Linked DNA regions of Homo sapiens. The protein of the gene in region 1 purifies or fractionates together with the protein of each later gene. This does not show direct contact. Each region holds a gene or a part of one and is shown on either strand. Other genes may lie near its edges.

The links.
Region 2: the proteins of SMC4 (region 1) and HECTD1 purify together in Homo sapiens (affinity purification with western blotting; 3 studies listed by BioGRID, with this or other methods). This does not show direct contact.

What each region holds. Positions count from the first base shown.
Region 1 is NC_000003.12:160,416,650-160,423,649, forward strand, and holds part of SMC4 (structural maintenance of chromosomes protein 4), read left to right. Parts: intron 1-1,073; coding exon 1,074-1,307; intron 1,308-2,708; coding exon 2,709-2,894; intron 2,895-4,090; coding exon 4,091-4,252; intron 4,253-6,775; coding exon 6,776-7,000. UniProt on the Homo sapiens protein: Central component of the condensin complex, a complex required for conversion of interphase chromatin into mitotic-like condense chromosomes.
Region 2 is NC_000014.9:31,121,931-31,139,053, reverse strand, and holds part of HECTD1 (E3 ubiquitin-protein ligase HECTD1), read left to right. Parts: intron 1-2,388; coding exon 2,389-2,523; intron 2,524-3,438; coding exon 3,439-3,578; intron 3,579-3,858; coding exon 3,859-4,182; intron 4,183-5,378; coding exon 5,379-5,545; intron 5,546-5,639; coding exon 5,640-5,816; intron 5,817-9,605; coding exon 9,606-10,442; intron 10,443-11,047; coding exon 11,048-11,269; intron 11,270-15,429; exon of another isoform or gene 15,430-15,538; intron 15,539-16,006; coding exon 16,007-16,140; intron 16,141-17,123. UniProt on the Homo sapiens protein: E3 ubiquitin-protein ligase which accepts ubiquitin from an E2 ubiquitin-conjugating enzyme in the form of a thioester and then directly transfers the ubiquitin to targeted substrates.

The DNA.
Region 1 (7,000 bases):
AATACAGTACCTTGATTATTATATATGCCACTCCTAAGCGTGTTGAATCATCATATTTTGTTGCCACCTGTAAAACCTGGAGCCACACTAAGCGCAGGTTAATGTCTCTTTTGTTTTTGCTTCTATAGCTCTTGTGTAATAGTTAAAAGCTGTGGCTCTTGTTTCAGTTCTTGGTTCAAATCCTAGGTCAATCACTTACTGTCTCTGTTCTTGTGCCGGTTGTCATATCTCCAAGTCATCTTCCTTAAAATGAGAAAGAATATATCTACTTTGTGAAAATAAAGAATAAATATATCTATATAACGTACTGAGAAAGAAAATAAATGTTAGCTATAATTTTAGCATTATATTAATAAAACGAGAGCATGAAGTTGTCACATTGATATGTATTATCTACCCCAACAAGAGTAAGCATAAAATTATCTTTGTTTGTATGTACCACAGCATTTTTGACAGTGCTAAGCATGTTAAATACCTATGTTAATGGATAATGGTAATTGACTGCATTAAAAAGTCATGGTAGAGTCTGCTTTGGCATATCAACATGTTCTAATGTCAAACTATAAAACTTAACAGGTTAGAATACCTGTGTGATGAAGTGTCACTTAATAGAGTCTGCTTTGGAATATGGACATGTTCTAATGTCAGATTATAAAACTTTACAGGTTAGAATACCTGTGTGATAAAGTGTCAATGGATAATGCAGTAGCTTTCATGATGGGATACTTCATAGTTAGTGGATTTTCACTGTTTGCTTATTTAATATATATTGAGTACTCATGTGCCCTGCACCCCATGTTAATGACAAAGCTAGGCCTCAAATGTCTTTATTCCTCAGCGTAATGATCGATCTCACAAAGCTCTTGTGAAATCAGTTGGGAAAAGACTATGTACAGTGAATATTGACAACTAGGCAAAAACTGAATCTAGTCCACTTGTGAGAATTTCTTATTTCTATATACTGTGCTTATAGAATCTCCTTTCTTAAATCGAATATAAAATGTATGGTTTCATTTCAGTGTAGGTTTGAAAGTAAATATCTGTCCAGATTTAATGAACTCATATTTTAACAGAGTCGAGAGAAAGAACTTATGGGTTTCAGCAAATCGGTAAATGAAGCACGTTCAAAGATGGATGTAGCCCAGTCAGAACTTGATATCTATCTCAGTCGTCATAATACTGCAGTGTCTCAATTAACTAAGGCTAAGGAAGCTCTAATTGCAGCTTCTGAGACTCTCAAAGAAAGGAAAGCTGCAATCAGAGATATAGAAGGAAAACTCCCTCAAACTGAACAAGAATTAAAGGAGGTAAATCTTTGCTTCTCTGTTGCATCAGAACATCATTCGTCCACTTCAGCTTTATACATTTTTGTTTTTAATCTCCGCGTCAGAGGTGACTAGTGATAAATTTTCTTCATTTTGTATAATCTCAAAAGAATGAGGTCAGCATTTCAGTATTCCATATGTGAACTGAGACTATCAAGAAACTATATTATCCCCAGAAGCACCATATAGTAAGTAAATCACCACCACCACCCCACTGTAGAAATAATTTAAACAAAAGAAAGTTTGTGTTTCTTTAAATCTTAAGTATAGACAATTTAAAGATAAATAAAAAACAAGTGTATATGTATTTATATAATGAATATACAAACAACTATCTTAATGTGTTTTGGGTTTTGAATTTATGGATGTAGTTTCTTTGCTTGCATTCCAAAATGTTATAAACTAACTAAGATGTATAGCTTATCGGTGCCTGTCCCCCATCCTTGAGTGAATTAGATGTCTAAGGAATTTCGTAAACTTTAATCTCCAAAGATCTCCAAAACCTCAGTAGGCAAGGTGGCAATAAAAAAAAAATCTGTTTGAAGTGTAATTATACTGAAAATAAATATGAGTCTTTTTCATTTTAGTTAATGCATGCTATTTGGTCATCAGGGAATTTCATGACCAGGTAGAATTTAAATGTAAATTAAGTTAGATCCAGTGACTGCTTCTGTCTTCCTGGGATTCGGTTTCTTTTGGGATGAATTATGTCAGTAACTTGGTTTAAACTTTATGCCAGTACAGTAAGTAATAGACATAATTTAAATCTAGTGGATGGAGGAATATACCAGTTAGAAAAGATGGCTGCTGAGAAGTTGGAGATTGAGAAACAGAGGTTGTGTTTATGTGTGCATGTTTGTGGTTCCTTTCTTGTTGGGAGCCTGGCATTTTTGTATAGCAATAGGACTATCCAGTCATCTTTCGTTTCAGAGGTGTGCTTTTTCTCCAGTACCCCCCAGCCCCGTTCAGCTAAAATAAAGCACAGCATAACCGTAGTCCTGCCCAGTCATTTTCTGGGTCAGCTTTTCATTAGGGCAGAGCTGAAGAATTAGGGCACACTTATGTATAACTATGTAGTATCAAACTGGGATTTCCACAGCCCCAGCTATACTTCTCTATCAGGATGAACTGTTTGCTCCTGAAAAAAATATTACACCTAATGTTTTCTTTTATTGACCCAAGTAATTTATGCCCCTTTTAAACCCATCCATATTTTCCACAACCAAACCAGCAATTGCCATACAGGTGCTCAGTTTTGGTTCAAATTTTTATTGTTGGTCTTTCTTTCTTTATTGTTATTAAAGCATTACAACTAATTCAGTGCTATGACTGGTCATATTTAGAAGTTAATGCTTCTGGATTTCATTTTATTTTCACTTTTAGAAAGAAAAAGAACTTCAAAAACTTACACAAGAAGAAACAAACTTTAAAAGTTTGGTTCATGATCTCTTTCAAAAAGTTGAAGAAGCAAAGAGCTCATTAGCAATGAATCGAAGTAGGGGGAAAGTCCTTGATGCAATAATTCAAGAAAAAAAATCTGGCAGGATTCCAGGAATATATGGAAGATTGGTAAAGTAGATTTTTGGGGGGCATGGCTTTACTTTTTTTTTTTAAGAAAGTGTAACTTATTTTTTTGCCTTGACAACCATATTTCAAGTGTCACTGTATATAAAATAAGATTCATTTTGTTTGTTTTAAGGCACATTTATTTTTAAACATTTTGCCCTTACAGTTTCTTGTTTACTTAGCTTTAGATAAATACAATTATTTCATACATATCAAGAAAAATACTAGTAATGTCACACAAACTTAAAACCATTTTATCCTTTTTTTTAAAAGAGAGACTTTAGCCAGGCACAATGGTGTGTGCCTGTAGTCCCAGCTGTTGGAGAGGCAGAGGCAGAAGGATCACTTGAGCCTAGGAGTTCAAGTCCATCCTGGGCAATATAGCAAGACTGTTTTTTAAAAAATGAAAATTAAAAAAAATTTTTTTATATATTTGGGGTTTCACACCATTTTACTTAGGTTTGGGCTAGCATTTAAGGATATAACAAGGGATAATCTAAAAATCCAAGGCTAGCAATAGTGAGGACCATTACTGCTTCTTAGCTTCGAGGGAAGGGAGTTGTGGTCCAGAGGAGATGGGGAAAATGGATACCTTAACCCCACCTATTTCCTGCCCTCCAGTCTTAGCTGAAACCTCAAATTGGCTGAAGGTGGAGAGTCAAAGGAGCCAGTTGATGCAGTCCTTAAGTCAGCCTTTCGGAGAAGGGAACAAATTGATGTAAAAATTACCCAACATGATTGCTTCTGCATCTTGTATCGGGACTTCCACCTTATTTTCTTAAAGATAAACAGTTTGATCCTATTCATTTGCTCTCAAAGAAAGCCCAAACCAGTGAATACTGCTAGATAGTTGTGTAATAGATAAACAGATAAATGTGTTTCATCAGGATTTACATAATTTTAGATGCTTTTCAATAATTCAAAGTTTTCTGAGTTTTGCTTATAGTTCATTTAGGTTTTAAGCTTCATGTTGTTTTCATAAAATGAAAACAGTTCTTTCATTTTGTGCTCATTAGAAATTCAAGCTGCATATTCATAAACTTATACATATTTTGTATTTTGTTGTGTACCCTTTTGTTCTCTTTAAAACCATGTCTACATAAAGTTTTTCAATTAAAAGAAGTTTTTAAAACTTGATGAATGAAATGGTCCTGTGCTTTTCTGCCTAACTCTTTTTTCACCCCACTCTTCATTATTAGGGGGACTTAGGAGCCATTGATGAAAAATACGACGTGGCTATATCATCCTGTTGTCATGCACTGGACTACATTGTTGTTGATTCTATTGATATAGCCCAAGAATGTGTAAACTTCCTTAAAAGACAAAATATTGGAGTTGCAACCTTTATAGGTTTAGATAAGGTGGGTATTCGTAATAACCTACCTATAATTGGAATTTTTTTTTTTTGAGACGTAGTCTCGCTCTGTCACCCAGGCTGGAGTGCAGTGGCATGATCTTGGCTCACTGCAAGCTCCGCCTCCCGGGTTCACACCATTCTCCTGCCTCAGCCTCCCGAGTATCTGGTACTACAGGTGCCCGCCACCACACCCAGCTAATTTTTTTGTATTTTCAGTAGAGAGGGGTTTCACTGTGTTAGCCAGGATGGTCTGGATCTCCTGACCTTGTGATCCGCCCACCTCGGCCTCCCAGAGTGCTGGGATTACAGGCGTGAGCCACCACACCCAGCCCTATAATTGAATTTTTAAGTGCTAAGTGTGTTTTTCTTTTTGGATTCAGGCTTTTTCTTAATGGTTACTCAGTGAACACCTGATGGGTTTTGACGATTATTTTATGTTCTGGGGTTATATGATTATAAAAAATTGTTTGACATTTGCAGTGCCTCCACTAAAGGAATGTACATTCCAGAGTTAAAAGGAAAACCTTTATTGAGATAATTTACCTACAATAAAATTTATCATTTTAGGCCAGGTGCGGTGGCTCATGCCTGTAATCCCAGCACTTTGGGAGGCCAAGGCGGGCGGATCACGAGGTCAGGAGTTTGAGACCAGCCTGGCCAACATGGCGAAATCCCATCTCTACTAAAAATACAAAAATTAGCTAGGCATGGTAGCAGGCGCCTGTAATCTCAGCTACTCGGGAGGCTGAAGCAGGAGAATTGCCTAAACCTGGGAGGTGGAGGTTGCAGTGAACCTAGATTGCGCCACTGCACTCCAGTCTGGGTGACAGAGTGAGACTCAAAAACAACAAACAAAACAATCATTTTAAAGTATGTAATTTGGTGGGTATTAGTATATTCACAGTGTTGTTCACCCATGACCACTATCTAATTCCAAGATATTTTTATCACTCCCAGAAAGAAACCCCATAGACAGTAACAGTCGCTCCCTATACCCCTTCACCCCCTCCGTAACACTAACTACTTTTTTGTTTCTGTAGATTTATCTACATATAAATGGAATCATACAATATATGGCCTTTTTATACAGCTACATTTACTTAGCAGGTTTTCAGGTTCATCTATGTTGTAGCATGTATCAGTACTTCATTCCCTTTTATTGCCAAATGGTATTCTGTTACATCATTTTGTATAACCATTTGTCAGTTGATGGACATTTGTGTTTTCACTTTTTGTGCTTTGGCAATACTTGTGCTACGAACATTTGTGTACAAGTTTTTGAGTGAACATGTATTTTCAGTTCTCTTGGGTATATATATACCTAGGGTAGAACTGCTGGGTCATGTGGTAATTCTATGTTTAACTTTTTGAAGAACTGTCAAGATTGTTTCCACAGTGGCTGTACCATTTCCCACAAGCATGTGTAAGGGTTCCAGTTTCTTTACATCCTCGTTAACACTTGTTATGGTACATCTTTTTGATTATAGTCATCTTAGTGAATATGAAGTGGTATCTCATGGTTTTGATTAGGATTTTCCTGGTGATTTATGATAGTAAAAGTCCTTTCATGTCCTTGGCCATTTGTTATCTTCCTTGGAGAAATGTCTGTTTCAAATCCTTTGCCCATTTTTTAATTGGTTTCTCTTTGTTGAGTTGTAGGATTTCTCTATTCTGAATACAAGTCTCTTGTGAGATATGATTTACAGATATTTTACCCCATTCCTTGGATTGTATTTTCACTTTCTTGATGGTATCCTTTGAGGCACAATTTATCTTTTTTTTCCTTTGGTTGCTTGTGTTTTGGGTATCATACCCAAGAAACCACTGCCTAATCCAAGGTCACAGTGATTTGCCTCCTTTGTTTTCTTCTAAAAGTTCTATAGTTTTGGCTTTATATTTAGGTTTTAATCTATTTTGAGTTAATTTTATCACGTGATATAAAGTAGGGCTCAAACTACTCTTTCCATGTGGCTATCCAGTTATTCCAACACCATTTGTTGAAAAGATTCTTTACCCCATTGAATTTTCTTGGCATCCTTGTTGAAACCACCCAACCATTAATGTAAAGGTTTATTTCTGGGCTTTCAGTTTTATTACTTGTGCTGGTATAGGACACTGTCTTGATTATTGCAGCATTGTAATAAGTTTTAAAATCAGGAAGTCTGAGTCCTCTAATTTTGTTCTTTATCATATTGACTGTTCTGGGTCCCTATAATTTGTATATATGACTTTTAAGATCCAGATGGTCAATTACTGCCACAAAAAAAGGCGAGGAAGTAACTGGGATTTTGATACAGGTTGTATTGAATTTGTAGATCAGTTTAGATAGTATAGGCATCTTAACGGTATTAAATCTTTAGAACCACAAACATGAGATGTCTTCCGTTTAGGTCTAATTTTAGAACCTTTTGTGTATAATTCTTGTTTCTTTTGTTGAATTTATTCCTATGGGTTTTTTTTTGTTTTTTTTTTTGAGTTTTCTTTTTTGTTAACTGTTGTTTTTGTTTGTTTGTTTGTTTACTTTTAGATGGCTGTATGGGCGAAAAAGATGACCGAAATTCAAACTCCTGAAAATACTCCTCGTTTATTTGATTTAGTAAAAGTAAAAGATGAGAAAATTCGCCAAGCTTTTTATTTTGCTTTACGAGATACCTTAGTAGCTGACAACTTGGATCAAGCCACAAGAGTAGCATATCAAAAAGATAGAAGATGGAGAGTGGTAACTTTACAGGGACAAATCATAGAACAGTCA
Region 2 (17,123 bases), on another chromosome or scaffold:
ATATATATATATCTGTATATAATATGTAACTTCCTATTTACATTCTCATTCATTCAATTATTCTTTTCTTTAGTAGCTGGGATCTAGATGCAAACAAACAATACATTTTACTAATGTCCTAGCCCAGAACTTTATCACTTTTTTTGTGGGTTTTTTAGTGTTTCCTAGCAAGGCCTTCTGCTTTGAATTTTGCCTTTATCTAAACTGTTCTGCATTCTACTGCATGGAATAGTTTCTTTTGAATAATAGCCTTTAATGAGTGATTGAGGATCTATATATGCCAAAGCAATGCAAAGCTAACAAAACTTGCCATACCTCTGAGAACCCAATACTGTTATCAGTGCCACTAGACTCCCAAACTAGAGTACTTATTTAGGGAGTTTTACAGTGCAGTAGTTGCACCTGATATTCTATATGTAAAAGATGTGGAGGGCTACTTTGTGTTTTGTTTCAGACAGAATAACAGGAGTAATGGGGACTGTTTGGTCCATTGTTTTTAAGCTTTATTCCTGGTAAGTGGATGAGTTGGAGATAAGTCTCAAAGACAGTGCACCGATGCCTTTTATTATGCATTTTTCACTTCAGGAGATTGTGCAAGATCCAAAGAGAGGAAGGCCAGGAATGTGCTCTCTGGTAATTTTGCTGTCTAAAACTACCGAAATGCACATATAAATCTTTAATTGTTTTTATAGGAATTAGTTAAGATTTATACAGAAATGAATCTACCTAAAATTGCTAGTCCTGTGCTTGTTGCTTACTAAAATGTATTGGATTAAAAACTATTTTGCATCTTTTAAAGTTTATTAGCCTTTGATTATACAGGTTGAGTATTCCTTATCCAAAATGCTTGGAACCAGAAGTGTTTTGGATTTTATAATATTTGTTACCGATTCAGCATTCCTAGTCCAAAATCTGAAATGCTCCAGTGAGCATTTGAGCATCATGTCAGTGCTCAGAAAGTTTCAGATTTTGGAGCATTTCAAGATTCCAGATTTGTAGATTAGGGATGCTTATCCTGTAGAATATATTCTAGCGGAGTAAGCTAATTAGCTACTTTTCAAAAACTTACCTGGAAAATTGTGAGTTATAAGTCACTTTGATTAAGAAGTTTTATAAGTTTATTTAAACTGTGTATATTTAGAAGTTAAGAAGTTTTGTAAGTTTATTTAAACTGTGTATATTTAGAAGTTGTTTAGAAATTCTAGGAAGTTAAGTTTGTCTTTTACTTGATAGCCACTGTAACTTACTTAGTGTCCCTTTTATAAAAGAATCTTTCCTGTTGGATTGTTTTCTTTTTTTTCTTTTTTTCTTTTCAAGACTGGGTCTAGCTCTGTTGCACAGGCTGGAGTGCAGTGTCGTGATCTCAGCTCGCTGCACTCTCCGTGTCCCAGGCTCAGCTGATCCTCCCGCCTTAGCCTCTCCAATACCTGGGACTACAGGCATGCATGCCTGGCTAATTTTTTGTTGGTTTGTTTGTTTTAATATGTAGAGATGAGGTCTCACTGTGTTGCCCAGGCCGGTCTTGAACTCCTAGGCACAAGCAATTGATCCTCTTGCCTCAGACTCCTGAAGTGCTAGGATTACAGGTCTGAGTCACTGTGCCTGGCCTAAAGAATGTTTAATAGGCTGGGCGTGGTGTCTCACGCCTGTAATCCCAGCAGTTTGGGAGACCAAGGTAGGCGGGTCACCTGAGGTCAGGAGTTTGAGACCAGCCTGGCCAACATAGTGAAACCCATCTCTACTAAAAATACAAAAAGTAGCCGGGCGTGGTGGCACGCACCTGTAATCCCAACTACTCAGGAGGCTGAGGTAGGAGAATTGCTTGAAGCCGGGAGGCAGAGGTTGCAGTAAACCGAGATCACTCCACTGCACTCTAGCCTGGGCAACAGGAACAAGACTCCCATCTCAAAAAAAAAAAAAAAAAAAAAAAAAGGCCGGGTGTGGTGGCTCACGCCTGTAATCCCAGCACTTTGAGAGGCCAAGAAGGGTGGATCACGAGGTCAGGAGATCAAGACCATCCTGGCTAACAAGGTGAAACCCCGTCTCTACTAAAAAATACAAAAAATTAGCCGGGCGTGGTGGTGGGCGCCTGTAGTCCCAGCTACTCAGGAGGCTGAGGCAGGAGAATGGCATGAACCCGGGAGGTGAAGCTTGCAGTGAACCGAGATCGCGCCACTGCACTCCAGCCTGGGCAACAGAGTGAGACTCCGTCTCAGAAAAAAAGAAAAAAAAAAAGAATCTTTGATAGAAAACAGACATTTGTTCATAGTTCTATTATGTTTATAGTTAATAAATCCAAATCTCAGTTGTTTTAGGGTATATCATTTTTTACAATTCTGAGACAGAAACCAAGACGTTTTCCAGAGTATTTTGATCGTTTTTGTGTAGATACTTACAAGGAGATTACGATTTCGGTTGGAACGTGCACCTGGTGAAACTGCATTGATTGACAGGACTGGCAGAATGTTGAAGATGGAACCTTTGGCTACAGTTGAATCTCTGGAACAGTACCTTTTGAAAATGGTGAGTTTCTGGCAAGGGCACGGTGAAATAAGCATTCTGAGCTGTGGTTTAGCCTTTTAGGACAATAATTTGGGAAGTATATATCCAGAGTTATGGTAATACAGTTTGGCCCAGTAATTCCATTTTAGAACTGATTTCTACATGAAGATGTTTATTATAATTTTGTAATATTGAAATAGTAAACAAAAACCTTAATTCCAATCAATAAATTAATGTTAAATAGATAATTCATATTAAAAATTTAAATTTAATTGACAAATGTGTGTGATAATTATTTCTATTAATTTGAGTATCATATAGCCATAAAAATGTATAAAGACTAATGATAACAGAAAAATGTTTTTGTACAGTATGATCAAGAATTTGTTTTATCCTATCCATTGAAATAATAAACTAAAGAAATACTCTGTGATTATTAATAGTGAGGTGCTTTGGTTGTGGGACTTTTTATTTTTCTTTATATTTTTAAATGAGCATTTGTTTTTTGTTTTTGTTGTTGTTGTTGTTTTGTTTTGAGACAGAGTCTTGCTCTGTTGCCAGGCTGGAGTGCAGTGGCACAATCTCGGCTCACTGCAACCTCCGCCTCCCAGGTTCAAGTGATTCTCCTGCCTCAGCCTCCCAAGTAGCTGGGACTATAGGCACCTGCCACCACGCCTGGCTAATTTTTGTATTTTTAGTAGAAACGGGGTTTCACCATGTTGGCCAGGGTGGTCTCCATCTCTTGACCTCATGATCCACCCACCTCCGCCTCCCAAAGTGCTGGGATTACAGGCGTGAACCACCGCACCCGGCCTAAATGAGCATTTGTTATAATAAAAGAAAACAATTCACATTAAAGAGATAGGAAAAAAGTAGGTAACGTGCTTGAAAACAGCATTATTAAGGTGACTGTCTTTCATATTTTCTTTGGTTTAGGTAGCAAAACAGTGGTATGATTTTGACCGATCTTCATTTGTTTTTGTTCGAAAATTAAGAGAAGGACAAAATTTTATATTTCGGCACCAGCATGATTTTGATGAAAATGGAATCATTTACTGGATTGGAACAAATGCAAAGTAAGTCAGTCATTTTACTTTAAGCTGGAGTGACCATATTCACTTGGTAAAAGAATTCTAGGAAGTAGAATAAAATTGTTAGCACTCTGAATATTCTGTGGTTTAAGGAATTTTGACTTGTAGGTAGAAGTTAAGATTATCCAAATTACTTTTTATGAGGAAAAAATGTCTAAATTGCTAATTCTAGAATTGTACTTAATATAATTCTGTATTTAAAACCTTGTGCAAATGCAATTATCTTAACGTTGTTATTTGCTAATTTTTCTTTATTTTTGTATAGAACTGCTTATGAATGGGTAAATCCAGCTGCCTATGGACTTGTAGTAGTAACGTCATCAGAAGGAAGAAATCTACCTTATGGCCGCTTAGAAGACATACTAAGTCGTGATAATTCAGCTTTAAATTGTCATAGCAATGATGATAAGAATGCCTGGTTTGCCATAGATCTGGGTCTCTGGGTGATACCATCAGCATATACACTTCGTCATGCTCGTGGTTATGGAAGGTCTGCACTGAGAAATTGGGTTTTCCAGGTATCCAAAGATGGACAGAACTGGACTTCTTTGTATACCCATGTTGATGACTGCAGTCTCAATGAACCAGGGTTAGTTGAGGAGTCTTTGCAAATTGGAAAACTCACTAAAGAGCTTTGTTTATTTTTATAATTTTATACTCTAGAGCTCTCTTCCTTGTGAAATATTGAAGCAAAATTTTCTTTCTAAAAACAAATCACTTGATACTTTAGGCATTAAAACTTTGAAACACTGACTTTACTAAAACTTTGTCAAAAGGTTTAGTTTAAATAATAGAAAGCCGAGCTATTTTACACTGTATCTTAGCCAAAAGGCTGAGATGCTGTGAATATTTATTTTAAAAATTGGTATATAGCTGTATATACATACGCGCGCACACACACACACACACACACACACACACACACACACACACACACACACATTTATGCATACACACACAGCCCACTAATGGAAACAAGTGAAATAAACTTTCCATAAACTCTCCATATAATCACATAATACTTAGGAATGTTCAACATATTAGCAGTGGCTATTGCTCGTTATAGAATTAAGGCTGACTTAAAATGTTTTTATTTTTATCCTTAAATTTTATGTATTGAATAAGTTTTTAAAAGACAAGTCAGTAACTTCTAAAAAATTAGTTCTACTAAATTTTATTTATGCATTTTGGCACATATCAGGGGGTAGATTATGTACCCAAATTGCTTTTGGCATTTGATATGGTATGAGAGGAGCTTCTTAACATTAGGATTAATAGGTGATGTTTTCACCCCTTTCATGCTTTAAAGACAAAATATTAATACGTTATTTAAAAGTTTGCAAAAATGTTTTTAAGTCCGTTTTTCCATCATAAGAGAATTTCTCCTACTCTTTGTAAACCATCCTTTTTTTTTTTTTAAGGAGAATGGGGTCTTGTTATGTTGGCTGCTTTCTAACTTCTGGGCTCAAGTGATTCCCCTCACCTCAGCCACCCAAACACCACTGCACCCAGCATTTTGTCTTTTATCTTTGAATTATATTAATCATAAATCATTAATGTTATGAGTCAAATCAATAGCGTACATTTAAATGTTTCGTTTTTAACTTGTTCTCTTGACTACTTTTTTTCCTTTGATTTCTTGATTCTTGTAATGAACTGTTGAGTTAATATGAAAGTTAGTTTATTTTTTCTACAGGTCTCTGTTATATAAAAAATCTTTCCCATCTTGAATTTCTTTTTCATCTTTTAAAATATTACATAATTTTTTCTCTAACATATTAACAGGTCAACTGCAACTTGGCCTCTTGATCCACCAAAGGATGAGAAACAAGGGTGGAGACATGTGAGAATTAAACAGATGGGGAAAAATGCCAGTGGACAAACACACTACCTCTCATTATCTGGATTCGAACTTTATGGCACTGTAAATGGAGTATGTGAAGATCAGCTAGGTAAAGAGATGATACGAGGCTTTTCTAACTTACTAAAACAATTACTTTTGTAAAAAGTGATTTGGTTTTTATTTCTCCAATTTCTACCTGACAGGGAAAGCAGCTAAAGAAGCAGAAGCTAATCTTAGACGGCAGAGACGTCTAGTACGTTCCCAGGTTCTGAAATACATGGTTCCAGGAGCTCGTGTTATCAGAGGCCTGGATTGGAAATGGCGAGATCAGGATGGCAGCCCACAGGGAGAAGGCACTGTCACAGGAGAACTACACAATGGTGAGTAGGTGCTCAGCACTTTTGTGTAGAAAATGGGTAGTTAAATTTTTTCTTTTAAGATAATTTATAAATTGCATAAATGTATGAGCACTGTTTAGAAGAACTGTTGATACCACATTACAAATGGAAAAAAGGTAAAGAAAATAAGGGAAAATTTTAAGTTCTTGGGTTTTGACTAGAAACTTACTGGTAGTATTTTGGAAGTGATCAAGCCTAGTGTAAGTTGAGTATCTTCAAGACACACTTCCGGTTTTTTCCCCTAGTTTATTTTCAAGCTTACTGTGAGTTTTATTTTAATTTCTTATGTTTTTCTTTATCTTGTTAGTCTCACACCATAATTTTTATGGTATCATAAATCATATAGAAGAAAAAGGATTAACATTTTTACTGTTTTTTAATAATGCATGGAACAAGAAACATTGTCTCTTTATCTGTTAGTAGATTATTATTATTTCAAAGTGTTTCTTAGCCTACCTGCTTTTTGGGGAGGAGTTTATCATGTTTTCTAAATATTGCTATGTGAATCAAGTTTCTTTGATGCTGCACAGTTTAGCAAAGTCATCCACTTAATAAATTGCTATTAACTTTAAAGCAATTATAGTGGCTAATTATTTTCTTCAAACTATAAGGCTGACTTATTAGCAGATAATTTGCCTAAATGGCAGTGGGTTTGTTTTCATCAATTTTGTATCAGTTTTTGGCATTAAAAAAAGTAAAAATGTTTATATTCTCAACTTACACCACATATATATATCCACATATATGTGTGTGTATATATATGTATTTTTTTTTTTTTTTTTGAGACAGAGTCTCGCTCTTGTTGCCCAGGCTGGAGTGCAATGGCGCAATATCAGCTCACTGCAACCTCTGCTTCCCAGGTTCAAGCGATTCTACTGTCTCAGCCTCCTGACTAGCTAGGATTATAGGCATGGGCCACCATGCCTGGCTAATTTTGTATTTTTAGTAGAGACGGGGTTTCTCCATGTTGGTCAGGCTGGTCTTGAACTCCCGACCTCAGGTGATCCACCCACCTCGGCCTCCCAAAGAGCTGGGATTACAGGCGTGAGCCACCGCACGCGGCAACTTACACCACATATTTAAAGAGCTAGAATAAATGTGACGGTACTTACGAGAATGACTGACATTTAATTTCATGTTTTATGTGGTAAAGACATTTATTTATTCAAATAAACCCTTTGACTATATTGCTTTTAAGATTCTATTCCTTGAATTATTTTACTGCCAAATGTATTTATGTAGTATCATGCCCTAATTGCAAATCATTGTAATCAAAACAGGTTTACAGCGACCTAAAATTCATAAATACCAGTAATAGTTGAGATATCAACTATTATTGTTATACTGAGTTGAATAGTAGTGCCATTCAACTCAGAAAATTTCAAGTTTTCTTTTTAGGCATCTTGATGATACTTATTAAAAAGTTGTTATTCTATTTCCTGTAATTGTTTTGGCCTTGATGTATGTGACTTGATAAGAAGAGGCTAGTTAGAGATGTGTGAATGCAGTTCTTTTTTCTCAGGATGGAGTCAACTGAAGCAATTGCATAGGGAAATTAGAATCTTTTTTTTTTTCCCAAGATACAATGGCACAACAGTTTTAATACAACCACCAGTCTTCAAAAAATAATTTTAATACTTTGTGCCTGTACTAGCAGCATCTTGCACTGTGACATTCCTATACATACATAAGCATTTTATTGAAGTACAAATGTTAAAAGCAGAGTAACTTAAGCAATTGCCTATACAAAGGTAAATAGACACTGTGGGTTATTTTTCTTCTCGATTCATTTTTGCTGCATAGTAAGTTGCAATTACATGTCAGTATAATAATGTTACTGATCTATAAAATATATTTGAACCGTGAGGTATGGCACCTCCCTATGAGAGAGTGCTAACATGTACATCTGAATATTTTGAGTGTTTTTTGTTTGTTTGTTCGTTTTAGCTGCCACAGATGGGAAAAAAAAAAATCACCTAGCCTAGAAATCTCAGAGTTTAGCGTTCAAGAAAGGCCTATTTTTGCTAATCTGACAAATGTAGAAATTTAGTTTTGCCTAATCAACATGGCCATTCCCATCAAGTTATGCCTTTGAGTCTCTATGTCAGAGAGGGTTCTTAGCTTTCAAATACTTAAACCAACCATTTCTAATGATGGATAGTCATTACTGACTCTATTTTTTTTTTTTTTTGGTTTATCTTTTGGGTGTAGAAGGAGTTGAGAGAGTATGTTTTTTGGGCCAATTAATATAATACAAAAGTTACTTTTATTTGAGATTGGGCTATGTTTTTGAAACTTTTCCTTTTCTCACACATTTCTGTGTAGCAGAAGAGATAGTTAAATGTTGGTTCTTCAGAGATTATTTCAGCATACAGAAAAAAATAGAGGCAATTGAAAAATCTCATCTAAGCTACTTATGTAGATTTGGGGCAGTCACTTTTCCTTTCAAAGAACACATATGCAGATAATCCCCACAGGTAATTCAATATTATTTCCCTCTGAGTGCTATCATAAACATATGAACTTGGTGTAAGTGTGGGTGAGCATCTGGGTGTGTGGATGGGTGTGTATGTGATCTTGGGCCCCTTTTATGTATGGGTAAGAACTTTATAAAGGCTTGTTATACTTCTAAAAAAATGTTTTTTATGTCTTATGTTTTTCCCTGAAATAGTTAGCTTATAACACTAAAATAAGATTGTAAAATTTCTATTAATTTGCTTTTAATAGACAATTTTTTTTTTGCTTTTGGAAGTTAATTACCTTTTTAAAAAAAGAATATCATTTTTCTACTACAAGTAAATATATAGATTGAATATCATTATGCTCGTTAATTCTGTACATGTTATTAGCTTTAGCAGATAGTTCTAATAAAAGAGTTCAGTATGCTCTTTAAATTTTTTTTTAGAATTTTCTGTGTTTATTCAAATTTATTGAACTTAATTATTTAATATAAGAGAACCAAGGAACCACTGAACTTTGAGAACACAACCGAAATGCTAACTTTAGTGTTTTATTTGAACTAGTGACTAAAATTTCTATGGCAATATATGAATATTTTGAGAGGTTAGCCCAAATTGTAAGAAATTAATGGTAAGCTGGCATGTTTTTGTAGAAAAAAAATTTGACTACACATAATTATATTTAGCAGTTTTAAAACTTTTACCTAGATTCTGTTTACTTGCTGAAGTGGCAGTATTTTACCATGTATATCAATCTTTTAAAATTTCTTAAACAGTTCTTCCATTTAAGAAGTAACCAAGCCAGGTGCAGTGGCTCACATCTATAATCCCAGCTACTCCAGAGGCTGAGGTGGGAGGATCGTTTAAGCCCAGGAGTTCAAGATTAGCATGGGCAACGCAAGACCTCATCTCTAAAAATCAAATAATTTTAAAAATGAAATATAACCCAGTAGATTTAAACATGACCCTTACATTGCTTTTAAATGTCATAGACTGAATAGTTCAGAAATAAGGGAAATAAAAGGAAGAATTTTAAACATTTCCTGGAAACCTTGTATAGAGTACATATTTCTTGTCCTTAAAATATTTGTATCATGAGAGTTAAATAATATAGACTTTCAGATAGCTAGTCATATCGTCAAATAATTGAGTCCAAAAATTTACATATATTTTAGTGGGCAGACCTTGATTGACTATAGAAATTCAGAAAAGGACAGCACTGATGAAAAGCTGATCCCATATTGTGGAGCTACTGTCTGACACGCTCCTATCTGCTTTCTGCTGGGTCTCACAAACTCCTGTCCCTTTCCAGGCTGGATTGATGTCACCTGGGATGCTGGTGGCTCAAACTCTTACCGTATGGGCGCAGAAGGAAAATTTGACCTCAAGCTTGCACCAGGGTACGACCCTGATACAGTGGCATCACCCAAACCTGTTTCATCCACTGTTTCAGGCACAACGCAATCATGGAGCAGCTTGGTGAAAAACAACTGTCCAGACAAGACATCTGCTGCTGCAGGCTCCTCAAGTAGAAAAGGAAGCAGCAGTTCTGTGTGTAGCGTGGCCAGTAGCAGCGACATCAGCTTGGGTTCGACCAAAACGGAACGGAGATCAGAAATTGTAATGGAACACAGTATAGTTTCAGGAGCTGATGTCCATGAACCAATTGTTGTTCTTTCATCTGCTGAAAACGTCCCTCAAACAGAAGTAGGGTCATCTTCCAGTGCAAGCACCAGCACCTTAACAGCGGAAACGGGAAGTGAAAATGCTGAAAGGAAGTTAGGCCCTGATAGTTCTGTTCGTACTCCTGGGGAGTCTAGTGCAATATCCATGGGAATTGTCAGTGTTAGTTCTCCTGATGTTAGTTCAGTATCTGAATTAACTAATAAAGAAGCAGCTTCACAACGACCTCTTAGCTCTTCAGCAAGTAACAGACTGTCAGTGAGTTCTTTGTTGGCTGCTGGGGCCCCTATGAGCTCTAGTGCAAGTGTACCTAACCTGTCCTCAAGAGAAACATCTAGCTTGGAGAGTTTTGTAAGGAGAGTGGCAAACATAGCACGGACTAATGCCACGAACAACATGAATCTAAGCCGAAGCAGCAGTGATAACAACACTAATACTTTGGGGAGGAATGTGATGAGCACAGCAAGTAAGTGAGCTTTTCCTTCTGGAATCCGATGCTTTTTCCACTTGGAGGGATGCAAAATAGGGTCTCTTGTTCTGGCTGCAGTTTTTAACTAGATCATTAACCATGTTAGATAAAGCTACATCAAATTTAGCAGTTCAGGAATATGAAGTTCTCTAGAATCATAATATTTGCAGAATTCAGACTAGGTGTGATAAAGAACCTCTTATTTTAGAAGCATAAAACAGTACTTCTGATTTTCACTCCTTTATGATACATCATTAAGCAAAGTTGCATGAGGAAATAGATGACTATTAAATATTATCATAGTGCAGTGAAACCAAAGCATCATATAAGTATAGCTTTTGTTTAGACTCTACATTGATCTTAGCTTCTGAAAGTTAAATTCCAATTTAAGCTGCTAACAGGTCAAAGTAATTATATAATAGTGCTATAAAAAGAATTTTTAGTTGGATTTCAGTTGGGTTCCCAAAGTTGTTGCTTTTCAGGAACCATTTTATTATTAGTGTGTTTTATGACCTCACTCTTTAAAAAATAAAAAACTTGGTTTTTCTGAGGTTTCTACAATCTCACCTATTTGTACTGATTTGCTTCATTTTTGTCTTTAGCTTCTCCTCTTATGGGTGCTCAGAGTTTCCCTAATTTGACCACACCTGGTACTACATCAACAGTGACTATGTCAACATCCAGTGTTACTAGCAGCAGCAATGTAGCTACAGCAACAACAGTTTTATCAGTTGGTCAATCTTTAAGTAACACTTTAACCACCAGCCTCACATCAACTTCCAGTGAGAGTGACACAGGTCAGGAAGCAGAATATTCCTTATATGGTAAGTTGTAATTTAAAATGAAAGTATTTAGATACTTTCATAATGATGCTTTTATTATGTTTTCTCCTGATATTTTAAACTTTTGTTTAAAGAGAATTATTCTCTCTTCTTATAAATATGAAATCTTCGGGCCAGGCACAGTAGCTCACACCTGTAATCCCAGCACTTTGGGAGGCCGAGGCAGGTGGATCAGTTGAGGTCAGGAGTTCGAGACCAGCCTGACCAACATGGTAAAACCCCATTTCTACTAAAAATACAAAAGAAAATTATCCGGGAGTGGTGGCACACGCCTGTAATCCCAGCTACTCAGGAGGCTGAGGCAGAAGAATTGCTTGAGCCCAGGAGGCGGAGGTTACAGTGAGCAGAGATCGCGCCATTGCACTCCAGCCTGGGCAACAAGAGCGAAACTCCTTCTCAAAAAAAAAACAGAAAACAACAAACAAATACAGAATCTTTATATATAATATGAAAAAACTCAGTAATACGAGAGACTATTAAAAAATTATCTGGGGCCAGGTGCGGTGGTTCACACCTATAATCCTAGCACTTTGGGAGGCCAAGGCGGGCGGACCACTTGAGGTCAGGAGTTCGAAACCAGCCTGGCCAACATGGTGAAACCCTGTCCCTACTAAAAATATAAAAAAAATTAGCTGGGCGTGGTGGCGGTTGCCTGTAATCCCAGCTACTGGGAAGGCTGAGGCAGGAGAATCGCTTGAACCCGGGAGGTGGGGGTTGCAGTGAGCTGAGGTCGCACCACTGCACTTCAGCCTGGGCGACAAAGCAAGACTCCGTCTCAAAAAAAAAAAAAAAATCTGGTCAGAAGTGGTGGCTTGCGCCTATAATCCCAGCACTTTGGGACGCCAAGGTGGGAGGATCACCTGAGGCTCAGGAACTCAAGACCAGTCTGGGCAACATAGACCCCCATCTTTACCACCCCTACATCCCCAAAATTAGCCAGGTGTGATGTCATGCTACTGAGAAGGCTGAGGTGAGAGGGTTACTTGAGCCCTGAAGTTCAAGGCCCCAGTGAGCTGTGATCATGCCACTGCACTCCAACCTCAGTGACAGGGCTAGACCCTATCTCTGAAAAAATATTTTTTTTTAAATTGCAATTATCTGATTATACATGAAGTAGATCTAGGAACTTTATATGTCATTTTTTTTTGTATTTTGTCACAAAAGAAGTTTTAATGGAAGAACCATAAAGCTATTTGACACTCTTATCACTAAGAGAAGAAGTGTAATAGATTCATAAGCTTTGTAAAATGATATTCCTTGTATGCTGTTATCACAGTCTTTTGGAAGTAATTCCTTAGTTAGGTAATGCATGATTCTTGCAAATTAAATTTTATTTGGAAAGTTCAGTAACAGCCTTATGGCTTCCATGCTATAATCAAAGGGATGTATTTGATTCAGTTAAGATAGAATCTGTGTTTCTATTTCTTTTATTTCATCTTATTAGAAAAGTAATGCTCTGTATAGAAACTAGAAGAAAATTAAAATCATCTAGTCCCCACCTACCAGACAACCAGCTTTGATGTACATCATTTGATGTATGTTTTTGTTTTTTTAACATAAAAGGATTATATCCTTTTCCGCCAGCTGTTTTCACTCAATACATTGTGAAAATATTTTCACATATGTTGCATGGGTTTCTATAACATTTGAAATGACTGCCAAATATTTCACTGTATGATCATCATTTAATATTATTATCAATTTTGTATATTTAAGTTAGAACTTTTCCATTACCATAAACATCATTATGAATGAGCTTTCTTGAACTGTATTTTAATATACTTCCTTAGGATAAATGCTTAAAGTAATAATTATTGAATTGCTTTCCAAAAACATTGCACTCCATCCCAATTGTTTTGGAATACCCTTTACCATATATCCTTGATCATACTGCCTGTTTTTCTTTAAAAAAAAAAAATTGGGAGTAATTTTAAAGACAAAGTTTATGTGAAGATACATTTTTAAGGTGCTATTTTGTGTATAGCCCATTTTCATGTTTTCTTCCTTTTTGTGAGAATATAGCCTCTCCTAATTCATAGCAAGAATTTGATATGATGTTCCATAGTTTTAAGAGAGTCATTATATTTCTGTTTCTGCTTATTAAACGTGTGTGTAGCAAAATGATGATGATTACACCAAAGTGTTATAAATTCATTGCATAAGGTGTTTTCTGATTTATTATTTCTCATGGTGGCCCTGTGCCCCTCTCTACTGATTTGTTATTATGTTAACTTCAAGCATTAGTTCTTGGTCATGGGAAGTTGAAGATGATTGTGGGTAGGAAAGAGTGAACTGGCCGGGCGCTGTGGCTCACGCCTGTAATCCTAGCTCTTTGAGAGGCTGAAGCGGGCAGATTGCCTGAGGTCAGGAGTGTGAGACCAGCCTGGGCAACATGGTAAAACCCTCTTTACTAAAGTACAAAAAATTAGCCAGGTGTGGTGGCCCACTCCTGCAGTCCTAACTGCATAGGAGGCTAAGGCACCAGAATCTTTTGAACCTGGGAGGCGGAGGTTGCATTGAGCCACGATTGTGCCATTTGCATTCTAGCCTGGGCAACAGGGCAAGACTCTGTCTCAAAAAAAAAAAAAAAAAAGTTAGAACTACTGATTGACTTTTAAATTTTGTTGTTAGGTTTGACTAGCCTTAAAAAAATTTATTGTTGGCCGGGCACAGTGGCTCACGCCTATAATCCCAGCATTTTGGGAGGCCAAGGTGGGCAGATCACAAGGTCAGGAGTTCGAGACTAGCCTGGCCAATATGGCGAAACCTGTCTCTACTAAAAAATACAAAAACTAACCGGGTGTGGTGGCGGATCCCTGTAGTCCCAGCTTCTCAGGAGGCTGAGGCAGGAGAATCTCTTTAACCCGGGAGGTGTAGGTTACAGTGAGCCAAGATTGTGCCATTGCACTCCAGCCTGGGTGACAGAGCGAGACTCCATCTCAAAAAAAAAAAAAAAATTTATTGTTAGATGATGAAAAAAATTAATATAATTTTTATTTTAGATTCAGGGGATATATGTGCAGGTTTGTCACAGGGGTATATTGTGTGATGCTGAGATTTGGACTTCTATTGATCTTATCACTCAAATGGTGAACATAGTACCCAATAGGAAGTTTTCAGCCCTTGCCCACTCTTGCACTCCTTTTGGAGTCGCTAGTGTCTACTGTTCCCATCTTGATGTCCATGTGTACCCAAGGTTTAGCTCCTACTTATAAGTGAGAACATATGATAGAAGATTTTCTTTTTTATATTCTTAAAGCTGGTAGATACTTTAAGACTGCTGGGGTGAAGGATCAGAGTAACATCAGTTTATACCATTTGTGTATGCTGTGCAAGCTTTTACTGTGTTTTGTGGTTTTTCTCTTACCGCAGGCACGAATACTATACCATGTTGTGTTTTGAAGAGACATTTTATTCTATGATGTGGTCAAATCTGTGAAATACAGAGCTTTTTAATGCTGGTAAAAAAGGGAAGATGAGAAAAAAAAAGGGACATCAGTCAGTTGTAACATACCGGAGATAGAATTTCAATATATGAAGTTAGATTATGTTCTTTAAAAGACAAATCAAAGTGGAACTGGTTTATTTTGTGTACCACCACATCATGTTAATCACAACCAGTTCCTAAATTGCAGGTGGCTCCTTACAAGTGTTAAAGGGTAACATATTTTATCAAATTTAAGATGCTGTTGAGTGTTAAGACACACCATTTTTTTTCTGTTACTAAGGTTAAAAATGTTGCAATTTAATTCTGACTTGCCATTGTTTGTAAGATACATTCCGATTTCAAAGCATTACAATGTTTTAAAAATGTAGACCTTTCAACCTGAGAAAGTTGATAACAGCAAAAAAATGTGGACCCTTAGAAACTAATGAAATATAATGGCAGGCCTCTTCTACTGGCCATCCAGTAAAAGGCACTGAATATTTAGTCCTGTGTAATTATTGGACTAAAAACCATTTGGTTCAGTGGTCTGCAGGTGTAAGTTTCTGAGCAATTATAAATTGTCTTCTGGATGTTCTTCAGGAATATAAAGTATTTTGTTTTCTATCCTTTGTGCAATTCTGATATTATATTTTACTATTTTTTCCAGATCCAGTAAAAACTTCTGTTATAATCCCTTTAGTCCTCTTTTTTTCAGTTTTTATGAAGAACAGTTTGTCAGCATCTTCATTTATGCAGGACAATGTAATTTGACCCAGTCTCCATCGAAGGCAAGAGATTATAAGAAGGAAGGAGATAAAAATGATGCAAGTTGTTTTGAACTTCCTTATGTGCTAGATAATATGGATAACATGAAAGATGCCACATACATTATTCCGTAGTAAATAGGCATTATCTTAAGTAGTCATTGTTTTTAAGTAACCTACCAGGTCACATATCTAAGCCCCGTTTTTCACTGATTGACTTAATTCTGTTTTTCCTCGTAAGATCTTTTACATGTTGTAAAGGTTTGTTTTTTTGGTTATTGTTTTTTAAATAGCCCCACATGGTTATCCATTTATATTATGATTTTGTAATTCAGGTTTAGTTTATGGTTGTCCTTTATCACTTGTTTTTGTCATGCTTGTGTCTGTGCTCATCTTGTATGTGGTGGCAGAACGCAACAGTTGTCCCTTTTGAATTTTACTTTTGTTTTGTAAAAACCTAAAATGCAAAGTTCCTTTGTTATGCTTTCTTAATTGTGTTGACATAAGGTTGTGGGTTTTGTTTTCAAGATTTCCTTGATAGCTGCCGTGCCAGTACTCTATTGGCTGAGCTCGATGATGATGAGGACTTACCTGAGCCAGATGAAGAAGATGATGAGAATGAAGATGACAATCAGGAGGACCAAGAATACGAGGAGGTTATGGTAGAGAGAGTACCCCATTCTCTTTACAAAGATAGGATGTTAATAATTGAAATGAAGAAAGGAAAAGCTAAGTCATAATCAAACTTTGAAGCAAGGAAATGTGGCACCAGTATAAAAAATGTAGTTAATTAAGAAAAGCAGTTTTAATCTGAGCATTTATGATTCTCCACTTAAAGAAAATAAGTTGCTTATATTTGAAAAATTTTAGAATGTCACATGATGTTTTAACAGGCTTAAAAGGGTGTGAAATTAGGCTGGGTATAGGGCTCATGCCCTGTAGTCCCACACTTTGACATTTGTAGTCCTGGCTACTTGGGAGGCTGAGGTAAAAAATCACTTGGGTCCAGGAGTTGCAGGCTGCAGTGAGCTATAATTGCATCACTGCACTCCAGCCTGAGCCACAGAATGACACAAACACACACACACGTACACACGTGTATGAACTTAGTGCAGTGGCTCGTGCTGCCATGAGCTATAATTGCATCACTGCACTCCAACCTGAGCCACAGAATGACACACACACACACACACACATGCGCGCACACACACGAACTTAGCCAGTGCAGTGGCTCATGCTGCAGTGAGCTATAATTGTGTCACTGCACTCCAGCCTGAGCCACAGAATCTCACACACACACACACACACACACGTGTGTGTGTATGAACTTAGCCAGTGCAGTGGCTCGTGCTGCAGTTAGCTATAATTGCATCACTGCTTTCCAGCCTGAGCCACAGAATGAGACCCTGACACACACACACCCAAGCACACACACAGTGTATGAACTTACCCAGTGCAGTGGCTTGTGCTTGTAATCCCAGCTACTCAAGAGGCTGAAGTGGCCCTGGAGTTTGTTTTTTAGTACCTATGGTTTTGCAAGCAGGGTCCATCTGTTTTTTCATTAGTTGTCACATGAAGGAATGAAGTAGAGGCATAAAAAAAAAAAATTTGCCCTTATCATCAGAGTTAAGTGGAAGAGTGAGGA